3 linked regions of the Homo sapiens genome follow. The protein of the gene in region 3 purifies or fractionates together with the protein of the main gene of each other region. This does not show direct contact. Each region holds a gene or a part of one and is shown on either strand. Other genes may lie near its edges.

What was found.
Region 1: the proteins of TRMU (region 3) and CLPB purify together in Homo sapiens (affinity purification with mass spectrometry; one large-scale study listed by BioGRID and IntAct). This does not show direct contact.
Region 2: the proteins of TRMU (region 3) and NSUN4 purify together in Homo sapiens (affinity purification with mass spectrometry; one large-scale study listed by BioGRID and IntAct). This does not show direct contact.

The regions. Positions count from the first base shown.
Region 1 is NC_000011.10:72,298,390-72,302,036, forward strand, and holds part of CLPB (mitochondrial disaggregase), read right to left. Parts: exon of another isoform or gene 3,576-3,647; coding exon 3,414-3,575; exon of another isoform or gene 2,344-3,413; intron 2,073-2,343; exon of another isoform or gene 1,977-2,072; intron 1,792-1,976; exon of another isoform or gene 1,574-1,791; intron 1-1,573. UniProt on the Homo sapiens protein: Functions as a regulatory ATPase and participates in secretion/protein trafficking process. Has ATP-dependent protein disaggregase activity and is required to maintain the solubility of key mitochondrial proteins.
Region 2 is NC_000001.11:46,357,775-46,361,421, forward strand, and holds part of NSUN4 (5-cytosine rRNA methyltransferase NSUN4), read left to right. Parts: intron 1-2,929; coding exon 2,930-3,054; intron 3,055-3,647. UniProt on the Homo sapiens protein: Mitochondrial RNA cytosine C(5)-methyltransferase that methylates cytosine to 5-methylcytosine (m5C) in various RNAs, such as rRNAs, mRNAs and some long non-coding RNAs (lncRNAs).
Region 3 is NC_000022.11:46,349,161-46,352,807, reverse strand, and holds part of TRMU (mitochondrial tRNA-specific 2-thiouridylase 1), read right to left. Parts: intron 2,518-3,647; coding exon 2,345-2,517; intron 688-2,344; coding exon 634-687; intron 545-633; coding exon 478-544; intron 1-477. UniProt on the Homo sapiens protein: Catalyzes the 2-thiolation of uridine at the wobble position (U34) of mitochondrial tRNA(Lys), tRNA(Glu) and tRNA(Gln).

The sequences.
Region 1 (3,647 bases), on a different chromosome or scaffold from region 3:
TCCGCACTCATTGGTCACGCCAAGGCCAGGGCTGCATCTGTTTTGTCAGTGTCCCCTCTACCCCACACAGCGCCTCATGAATAAATGAATGAGCCACATTCTTTTGGTTGGCTCTTTTTTGTTTTTGAGACAGGGTCTGGCTCTGTTGCCCAGGTTGGAGCGCAGTGGTGCAATCTCTGCTCACTGCAACCTCAGCCTCTGAGGCTCAAGCCATCCTCCCACCTCAGCCTCCTGAGTAGTGAGGACTACAGGCACATGTCACTATGCCCAGCTGATTTTTGTATTTTTTGTAGAGACAAGGTTTTGCCATGTTGCCCAAGCTGGTCTCGAACCCCTGAATTCAAGTGATCTGCCCACCTCGGCCTTCCAAAGTGCTGGGATTACAGGTGTGACCCATCATGCCTGGCCTGGTTTTGCCTCCTACTTCTCTGGCGAGTCTGTCTTGACTTCCCTGATAGGTCCCAAGGCTCTGTGTATAGCCCTCTTTTCTCTGCACATTATACACTCCCTGGGTTACAGACCTCATCCATTCCTGTGGCTTCCGTTAACCTCTCTGGGCTGAAGGATTCCTGAACTGCTATTTTCAGTCAGACCTTTCCTAAACTCCTGACCCATAAAACTGATGAACGGCCCCTTGGCCATCTCCATCTGGATGTCCCTCAGGTATCTCACCTTCAACATTTCCACACCTCAGTGCCTCACCTTCCTCTTCAATCTGCGGCTTCCCACTGTGTTCGCCGCCTTAGCTGATGGCCAACTGGCAGCAGCCAACTGGCCACCCTTGGCTCCTCCTCCTCTCCTCAGTCAACCTTCTAGTAGTTTCTCCAGCCCATGGCCTCCCCAGCTGTAGCTTGGGCTCCCCAGCAGTCTCCTTGTTAATGACCCTCTCCCTTCTCATCCATTCTTTACACAGCTGCCCACGGCATCTTTGTAAAGTGAAAATTTGACTGTTTCTTTCTTGCTTAAAGTCTTTAAAAGGCTCCTTACTCTCTACCAGAGAAATGCAAACTTCTGTGCCTGGCATTTTAACTGGGCCCTGTTTACCTTACCTACCTTGTCTCTAGCACTCTGTCCTTGTTTTCCCTCTGCAATCGAGCAGTACTGACCAGCTGCAGTTCCCTGAGCATGCCAGCCTGTTTCATGCCCTGTACTTTTATACATTAGGTTTCTACTGCCAGCCCCGCCACTCTGTTCACCTAGCACTTACTAACCCTTTGAAGGTTTGCTAACTACTGTTGAATTAAAACTACTGTTGAATTAAATTAGTCAATACAACATTTCCCCTGACTTTGTGGGCTCTGGGAATGGTTCAAGTGAACATGACAAGGGCCCATCCTCAAAGAGCCTAAATCGAGTAAACCTGGATGGCAGCTTTGGTCAATGGAACCAAGAGCATCAGAAACTATAGTAGGCTGGGGCTGGGGGAAGGGGCGACAACAGCTGCAGGAAGGAATTCCTATCAACCCCTAAAAGGCAGTCAGTGGAGTGAAGTGACGGAGGAGGGGGAGACAGGGCTTCCATGTATGGCTGATTGTACTTCAGTCAGCAGTTGCCTTCTGTTTTTTGGGCCAAGAATGCCATCAGAGGTGCCTCTCCAGGGAGACCAGAGATCAAACAGGCCGCGATGCTCACCCTCCCTCAGCGGCATGGTCCCGTCCCTTGCGTGCTTCACTGAGACGGACCTCGCTCTTTTGGCCCTAGCTGCGTGGCAGTCATTCAAGCTGCAGGATCTAGAACTGGGCTGCCTGGGTTTGAATCCTTGATTCTCTCTCCCCAGCTGCATGACCACAGGTAAATGACTTAATCTTACTTTGCTTCAGTTTCCACATCTGTTCAATGGAGGCCGTAATAATAGCTAGCTTTGGAGGGTTGTTGAAAGGGTTAAATTGATACACATAAGCCTCTGAAGACAGCGAATGGCACACAAAATGCAAAATGCCAGCTACTACCATGTCTCCTTTCCACCTGTCTACCAGGCAGAGAGCTCCAAGAGGGCACATTCGGGTCTGGTCATAGCTGTGCACTTGAATCCCATCAAGAGGCTGGAATGGAGTAGAGGCCTCAGTGTACACGTGAGTAACTGAGTATGTGACCTCTGAAGGACTGGTCTCTTCTTCCTCAGCAGAGGTTCAGGGGCAGGGAGCAGCTGAAGGGCTAGGAAGATACAACGGAACGGGCAGGGGCAAGGAGGCTGGGCCAGGTGGGGAAGGCAGTGAGCAGCTGGTAGGAGATCTGGATCTGGATCTTCCTGGCTTGGTACCTGATGTGCTGTTCGGTCTGGAGGAGTCCCCTCCCTGTGGCCTCCTATGACATGGGAAGCAAACCACCTTTTTGTTTTCCTAGGGCTGCAGGAGACTAGGTAGAAAGGTGAGCTGGACTCATGGCCAGGTGCTAGCTAATATAGCCCCTGCATGAGAGAAGAGAGGCCTCATCCCCGGTTCAGTCCTTGGCTCCTCACGCTCTCTTGATGGAGCAGGGCCCCTGAAAAGGTGGAAGTCATCTTCTTCCGTGATCGTAAGCAATCCCTCGCCTGGTTCAAGGTAAACAGTGGTATGGGGGGAGAATTGGGGCTCTGGGATCAGACATATCTGCAGCCCAATCTTGGCTCTTTACACAGCAGCTGTGGCCTTAGGCATGTCTTTTATAACCTCTCTGAACCTCAGTTTCTTCATCTGTAAAAAATGAGCTAATTTCTCCCTTGCCTGTTAGGAATTTTTCTACCTACCTTGTGAGGATTAGTGATAATGGCTGTAACGTCTTTAGTACAGGTCTAGTACACAGAAGGTACTGGATAGAAGTAAGCTCTTCTCTCCATTTAGAACTTACCCCTACGAGCAGGGGAACTGGACAGTCTGTGAGAACCCTCAGATTCTCAGAAGAGAAAGGCTCCATGAATCAGAGTATCAGCATCTCACCATTAGCAGCAACAATATTAGCATTTTAAAGAACTGCAGGAGACAATGTTTGGCACACAGGGAGGAACAAGAGCTGTCTGAGGCAGAAGGATTTTTGGGGCTTCTCTGATTCAGCCTCCTCGTTTGTCACATGAGATCTCTGATGCCTAGAGATGGGCAGTGACTTGCCAAGGCCACAAAGCCAGTCAGGAGCAGAGCTGGAACTAAAAATTCATGTCTCGCTCTCATGGCACCTCTGCCATACCATGTCTCTCTAGAAGGTGGGCTGAGCAGCCACACAATTTCAACTCTTAGGCAGGGCTGGTCTTCGCTTGAGTGCCCCACCCAGGCCCTAGTGCAGAGGGGCTAAGTTGCACCTACTGGATGAATGAATGTACACATGCGGGAGCAGGAAGCCGAGGAATGACCAGCTAGCCTCTGGGCCCTTGCTTTCTGCTGTTCACAGTCCCCCTTATCTCCAGGTGTCCCCCCGCTCCATCCTGGCCCAAGGTGACTCACCTCATCAAACAGCTGCAGCATGATGGTGAGCACATCTGGATGGGCCTTGTCTACTTCATCAAAGAGCACCACAGCATTGGGGCACTGCTTCAACTTCTTGGTCAGCTGGCCACCCTCCTCATGGCCAACGTAGCCTGGTGGAGACCCAATAAACTTGGCCACCTGGTAGAAGGAAGGAAACATGCTAGGAAGGCCTTTCTGTGCTTTTAGTTTCCAACATGGGGCATGCATGGG
Region 2 (3,647 bases), on a different chromosome or scaffold from region 3:
TCCTTTTAGGTGTATCTCTTATATGCTGCATAGACAGGTTTTGCTTTGTGAGCCAATCTATAAATTTTATTCTTTTCATTGCTGACTTAAGCAATTGATGCCATTGATGATTTTGGTCTCAGCTCTGTCAAATTATTATCATTTTATTTATTTATTTTTTGAGACAGTCTCGCTCTGTTGTCCAAGTTGGAGTACAGTGGTGCCATCTTGGCTCACTGCAACCTCCACCTTCCGGGTTCAAGCAATTCTTGTGCCTCAGCCTCCCAAATAGCTGGGATTACAGGCGCCCGCCACCATGCCTGGCTAATTTTTGTATTTATTTATTTATTTATTTATTTTGAGACGGAGTCTCGCTCTGTCACCCAGGCTGGAGTGCAGTGGCGCAATCTTGGTTCACTGCAACCTCCGCCTCCTGGGTTCAAGCGATTCTCCTGCCTCAGCCTCCTGAGTAGCTGGGATTACAGGTGCCCACCACTGTGCCCGGCTAATTTTTGTATTTTTAGTAGAGACAGGGTTTCGCCATGTTGGCCAGGCTGGTCTCGAACTCCTTACCTCAGGTGATCTGCCCGCCTCGGCCTCCCAAAGTGCTGGGATTATAGGCATGAGCTACTGCTCCTGGCCTAATTTTTTTTTTTTTTTTTTTTTTGAGATGGAGTCTCACTCTGTTGCCAGGCTGGAGTGCAGTGGTACGATCTCGGCTCACTGCAACCTGTGCCTCCTGGATTTAAGCGATTCTTCTGCCTCAGCCTCCCGAGTAGCTGGGACTACAGGTGCGTGCCACCACACCCAGCTAATTTTTGTCTTTTTAGTAGAGATGGGGTTTCACCATGTTGGCCAGGATGGTCTCGATCTCTTGACCTTGTGATCTGCCTGCCTCGGCCTCCCAAAGTGCTGGAATTACAGGTATGAGCCGCTGTGCCTGACACCTGTCAAATTATTTTACTGTGTTTATTTACCATGTTTCTTTCACTGTGGGGTCTCTGTCCTTGCTGTTTTGTTTTTCTTTTAACTTCTTTTGTTATTTAGGAAGGTTTATATTAATATTTTAATTCTACATTGGATAATTCCTATATCAAAACTATTGTTGACAATCAGTTACAGATGGAACTTCGTCTACTCTTTCTCCCCTTCTCACTCCTGCTCTTTCTCCCTTTCTCACTCCAGCAGTTGACTAGTCTCATTGAAAAAACAAATTGGGGCCGGCCAGGCATGATGGCTCATGCCTGTAATCCCAGCACTTTAGGAGGCTGAGGCGGGTAAATCACCTGAGGTCAAGATTTCGAGACCAACCTGGCCAATATGGCAAAACCCCGTCTGTACTAAAAAAATACAAAAATTAGCTGAGCGTGGTATTGTGCGCCTGTAGTCCCAGCTACTTAGGAGGCTGAGGTGGGAGAATCGCTTGAACCCGGGAGGTGGAGGTTGCAGTGAGCCGAGATCGTGCCATTGTGCTCCAGCCTGGGTGACAGAGCCAGACTCCATCCCAAAAACAAACAAACAAATAAACTGGGAATTTAGTTTTACTGGTTGCTGTTTCTGCTGACTTGCTCAAGGAGTCGTGTTTCCTTTTAAGTTTTGTGGTTATTTTTGTGTCCTGTAGTAAGCTTTTTTTTTTCTTTTTCGAGGCGAAGTCTCACTTTGTTGCCAAAGGCTGGAGTGCAGTGGCGCGGTCTTGGCTTACTGCTACCTCCGCCTCCCAGGTTCAAGCAATTCTCCCACCTCAGCCTCCTGAGTAGTAGCTGGGACTACAAGAGCGCTGCCACCACGCCCGGCTAAATTTTTTTTTTTTTTTTTGAGATGGCGTCTTGCTCTGGCGCCCAGGCTGGAGTGCAATGGCGCGATCTTGGCTCACTGCAACCTCTGCCTCCCAAGTTCAAGCGATTCTCCTGCCTTAGCCTCCCGAGTAGCTGGGATTACAGGTGTGTGCCACCATGCCTGGCTAGTTTTTAAATTTTTTGTAGCTGGGACTACAGGTGCATGCCACCACGCCCGGCTAATTAAAAAATTTTTTTTGTGCAGGTGGGGTCTCACTATGTTTTCCAGACTGTAATAACTTTCCTATTGGAGTATAATACAGAAGTGACCAAATCATAAGTGTACTGTTTAAAGAATTATCTTATAGTTAGTCTGGGCAACATAGCAAAATGCTGTCCCTACAAAAATACAAAAATTAGGCCGGGCATGGTGGCTCATGCCTGTAATCCTAGCATTTCAGGAGGCCAAGGCGGGCAGATCATGAGGTCAGGAGATCGAGACCATCCTGGCTAGCACGGTGAAACCCCGGCTCTACTAAAAATACAAAAAATTAGCCGGGCATGGTGGCAGGCGCCTGTAGTCCCAGCTACTCGGGAGGCTGAGGCAGGAGAATGGCGTAAACCCGGGAGGCGGAGCTTGCAGTGAGCCGAGATTGCGCCACTGCACTCCAGCCTGGGCGACAGAGCAAGACTCCATCTCAAAAAAAAAAAAAAAAAAAAAATATATATATATATATATATATATATATGTAAATTAGTCTGGAGTGGTGGTTTGCATCTATGGCCCCAGCTACTCAGGAGGCTGAGGTGGGAGGATTGCTTGATCCCAGGGAGTTTGAGGCTGCAATGACCTATGATCACATCACTGTACTCCAGTCTGGGCAACAGAGCAAGATTTGTCTCTAAAAATTAAAAAAAAAAAAAATTATAGTTACTTGTGTGTTAGTTTTGGGTTTTTGACCAGCCATGAATATTCCCAAATATACTATTTTCCACTCATTATTTCACAATTGTCTACCAAGTTAAAATGAAGAACTTTGTCAGGTACTCTGCAAAGGAGGGATGGGCAGAGGGAATATTTCACAAACTTAGGCCAGGGGCCTAAAACATCTCTGGCCTAAGGAAGAGAAGCCTATAAGGATCTTTAATACTTTACCCTTTAACACTCTGGGTAGGTGCTGGTGGATGTGCCCTGTACCACAGACCGCCACTCCCTTCATGAGGAGGAGAACAACATCTTTAAGCGGTCAAGGAAGAAGGAGCGACAGATATTGCCTGTGCTGCAAGTGCAGCTTCTTGCGTGAGTGACAGATTTTTAAACTCAGGACTTTGTGCCAGAGTGCTCTGGGAGACTGGGGGACTGGAAGCTCTTACCAAGACCATAACCCACACAAGAATCTTATGGCTGGAGATCTGCCTAGAGGAGACAGAAATGGGATCATCTCTGGAACATAAAAACCCTATTTGAATTAGCTGGGTGTGGAGATGCACACCTGTAGTCCCAGCTACTCAGGGGGCTGAGGGAGGAGAATCACTTGAACCTAGGAGGTGGAGGCTGCAGTGAGCTGAGATCGTGCCACTGCACTCCAGCCTGGGTAACAGAGCAAGACTCTGTCTCAAAAAACAAAAACAAAAACAAAAAAGCAACCCTATCTAGTAGGATATATATACTAGAGTGGGCTGCACAGATTGACTCATGCTATTTCATCCTCAGTACCAGTGAGTAGCACATGTTTGAAAAATAGCTGCTAGAGTAAGGACTCATTCTATAGCCAGCATAGCAATTTGGTCCATAAACAAGAGCTCAGGGGGTCATTGTAAGGAGACTTCCTAGTGAAGAGCTCATGGAGTAAGGTTGGGTTGCTATCTGCCTTGAGAGTGACTTTTCAGACA
Region 3 (3,647 bases):
GCAGGCCTCACCGCAGTAAGGGTCTGCACATGAGCGAGCAGCACTCTGGCCAGCGCGGACGCCTGATCCCATCGCTGCATGTGGTCCTTAATCATTCACACCATGCCGGGACGTCCACCTTACTCCCTGAATCAGAGTGGAGTTTTGTGTAGTTTAACATTTTCCTTACACAGGAAGGAAATCATTCTTTTTACAGGGACTTGATACGTAACTCACAGAGTATAGTCCTTCCAAGTCAGAGGCGCGCTTTTCATGAACTCCAGCATCTCAGCTGAGGCCACATCTGGAAGTGCACCCAGCCACCATCAAGGCAACTGTTCCACCCTAGGCCGTGCCCGCCCCCGGCCGCCCCACAGAGCCTTCTACAATTCTCCAGCCAAGTGGAAGGGACGACAGGAACTCTGGTCTAGTCTCCCAGAGCTGAAACGCCACAGCTCTAGGCATTTCAGATGACAAGTGGCAGAGTCTGCACCTCACCTTTATGTGTTCCCAGAACCTTATTGTCTTCTATGGAAATAAAGTGACCAGGTCGAGGCTGCAGATACTGGAAAACAAACATGTCATTACCGACGGAGATCTAGGCCCAGGGCAGACACGCAGCCCCATCTCTTTGTGTCAAAGAGCAGCACGCACCTGAAGAAGGAAATGTTCAAAATTCCTCTTCCCGATGAAACACATGCCCATGCTCTGAAATGAGAAGACGGCAGCCGTGAGAGGAGCAGAAGTGGCGGTGGCCCAAGCTGTACCCAGACGTCCTGAGCGGGCCCTGGGGCCTCCCGGCCTCACCCCACACTTTGCTTCCAGGGTAGGGGCCCGGCTGCCCACCGGCACCCTCGGCCGCCAGTCACAGCCGGCGCACACGATGCCAGAGCCTTAGAGAACGCCTCATTGTCTCGGCCCGCGGGGTCTGACCCTGCGCGGGAGACCCTCACACCAGCTGCCCCGGGGAAGAAAGCAGAACCCGGTCAGGTCCTTCAGGCCACTGTCCTGCGAGGAGTGGGGGAGAGACAGGGACCAGAGAAGGGGCAGGTAGCAGGAAAGCCAGGCCTGAAGCTAAGGCCTTAGGGGAGGGCTCCAGGGGAGTCAGAGGAGAGAGGCGCCTTCCTCAAGCACATCTGCCCTAGCTGGGGAGCCTGGGTGGCGTGCGCTCTCCACCGTGGCCCCATCAGGGGCTGCATCGTTTACTCTGGTTTGTGTCTCTCAAGACTGCCCTTCCATCCCTGCGGCTCCCACCACAGAGCGACACCGGAAACGGAAAACAAGAGGAGAGGAGGACGGGCGGTGGGCGTGCTCTTCAGGGAAGATGGCTCTGATGAAAGGTATGGCCGTTTCCATTACCAGGAAGAGACACGAAGGAGCAACAGCTCCCACCGCACTGGCCCCTGAAGAGGTGAGGCTCATCCCACAGCGCCCTCGCCCTCCATCCCCAAGGCCCTCCCACGGGCTTCATCCTAGTTCCGCCAACACTCCGGGTTCTCTCTTTTTGAGACGAGTTTCGCTGTGTTGCCCAGGCTGTCCTCAAACTCCTGGGTGCGCTCGATCCTCCTGAGGAGCTGGGGCCACAGGCAGGCACCCCCACAGCGGCTCCCTGGCTTCTCCTCGCCTCAAGGCCTTTGCACTGCCGTTCCCTCATCTGGACTTTCCCAGCCCTCTCTGGGACACCGGATCCTCTCCTCCTTCAGGTCTCAGGTTCCATGTGACTTCTTTTGAGGCCGTTTTTGGCATCTCCATTCCCTACTCTCAGACCCCACTGGTGCTTCCCACCCAGGGTCCTACACCTCCCTCCGTAGACATTTTCTAGGTTTACACTGATTGGCCTCCTGCCTGTGTCCCCCACTCGCGGGCGGGCTCCATGGAGGCGAAGATGGAACTGTGTGCGCGTCACCAATTCCTCGCGGCCCAGCAGCACAGCGCCCGAACAGATGGCACCGAACGAGTCTGTGCCGGGCAAGCGGGTGACAGGGCACATGAGTGTGCAGACGGCGGCACAGCACCTGCCCCTCCAGGGGTCTCGGGGCTGCATCACACTGCCTGGCACTCACCTGGCAGGCAGGCCATCCCAAGAGCACCCCACCAGCTGCTAAGGCTGTGGGGAAAGCTGCCTACCACATAGGGGCAGAGGAGAGGAAAAAAGCAAGGAGTCTCGTATAGGCTGCTCCCGATGTCAGCAGAGCCCTGTACCGTGCGCCTCAGCAAACTCCTCCATCTATTGCTCCAAGGCCCGCCTTTGATGTTAGGTCCTGGAGAAGGGGAAGTGGTGCGGGACCCACAGGTCCAGCTGCTCCGTGCCATGCAGTCGGGAAAGGGAAACAGGCACTAATCAAAGGCAACTGCTCACTCGTACCTCTTTCTTCTGAAGCACATGATGAAGTCTATTCTCAGCAGCGATTTTCTTTACAAACTCTTTCGTTAATCCCCCCAGAGGGAAGATGGTTCTCCTCAGGGCATCCTGGGAAACCTGGCTGAGAAAGAAGGTCTGGTCTTTAAAGCTGTCAGCTGCCTGGAGGAGTTTTACCGCTGCCAAGAATAAAGAACAAAAGACGATGCAGGAATAAAAATAATGATACTTCACTTTCAACAATGTCCTTCTGTTCACTTAGACAGACTACCCCTAGCCTGTCAGAGGCAGACATCAACACTCAATAGCAACTACTAGGGAAAAGACCACCACGGGTTAATGTAAGAAAAATTCGCACCTCCAAAAAAAAAAACAAGGATTTTACATGACAAAGAAATTATTCCAGCTCATACTTCAGATTATAATATTTTCAAAGATGAAACATCACATGAAAAAATGTTCTCAAGTGATAAGAAAAAAAAAAAAAAACACCTAAAATAAATTCAGCCAAATCTTGGAAAATGGAGTAAGCTAGTTGCTGGCAGAAAATTCCACTGATATAGTGTCAGCTGTGCCTTCTTCCAACAACCACAGGATGTGTTCGTGCCACAGTGGTTTCAAGGACTCTACACTTTCCAGGTTCACTGCCCGGCGGCCAGCACATGCCTCCAGCAGCGCCCTACCTGTGAAGGCATTAGCTTTCTTGGTAAAAACGTTTTTTTGTTGAGAGTCTCAGCTGACATCTGTTAGGTGACCCTGCAGTTCCTCCGACATTCCCTATGTGATTGTAAAGAACCATTTCTGGCTTTAAGGCAACGGAGCAGAGGTGTGAGTAAACCTGGCTTAGAACCGTCCAGTTCTCCACTCTCGAGTTCAATGATCAATGGCAAAAAACTAAGACGAACGTCAGTTTTCTGGCTTCTTTCAATCTTTCTCATAAACTTCTCCTTTCGAGTTACACTCAGAGCACGCCACATGCCGTGACGGTCAGACAGCACACCTACCCTTCCTGGCTTGGCAGAGCCACGTGTACAGTACACACTCTGCGTAGCTAGTGTTTTCCATCTGCCGATTCCCACGTTAGCCGTGAGAGGGAGAATTCTCCCCACGTTACAGAGGGGAGACTGGAGCCGGCCCAGTTCATCACATATGACTCGCCCAAAGTGATGCAGGTGGAGGCGGTGGGGCTGGAGGCTGCCCAGCCTCCCGAGTCCCCCTCCCTTACTTGGCAGGTACAAACAGCAGAACTGAGTGACAAGTGAGACCAAGTTCAGCCGACCAGTCGCCACGGAAGCAGAGCACTTTCCAG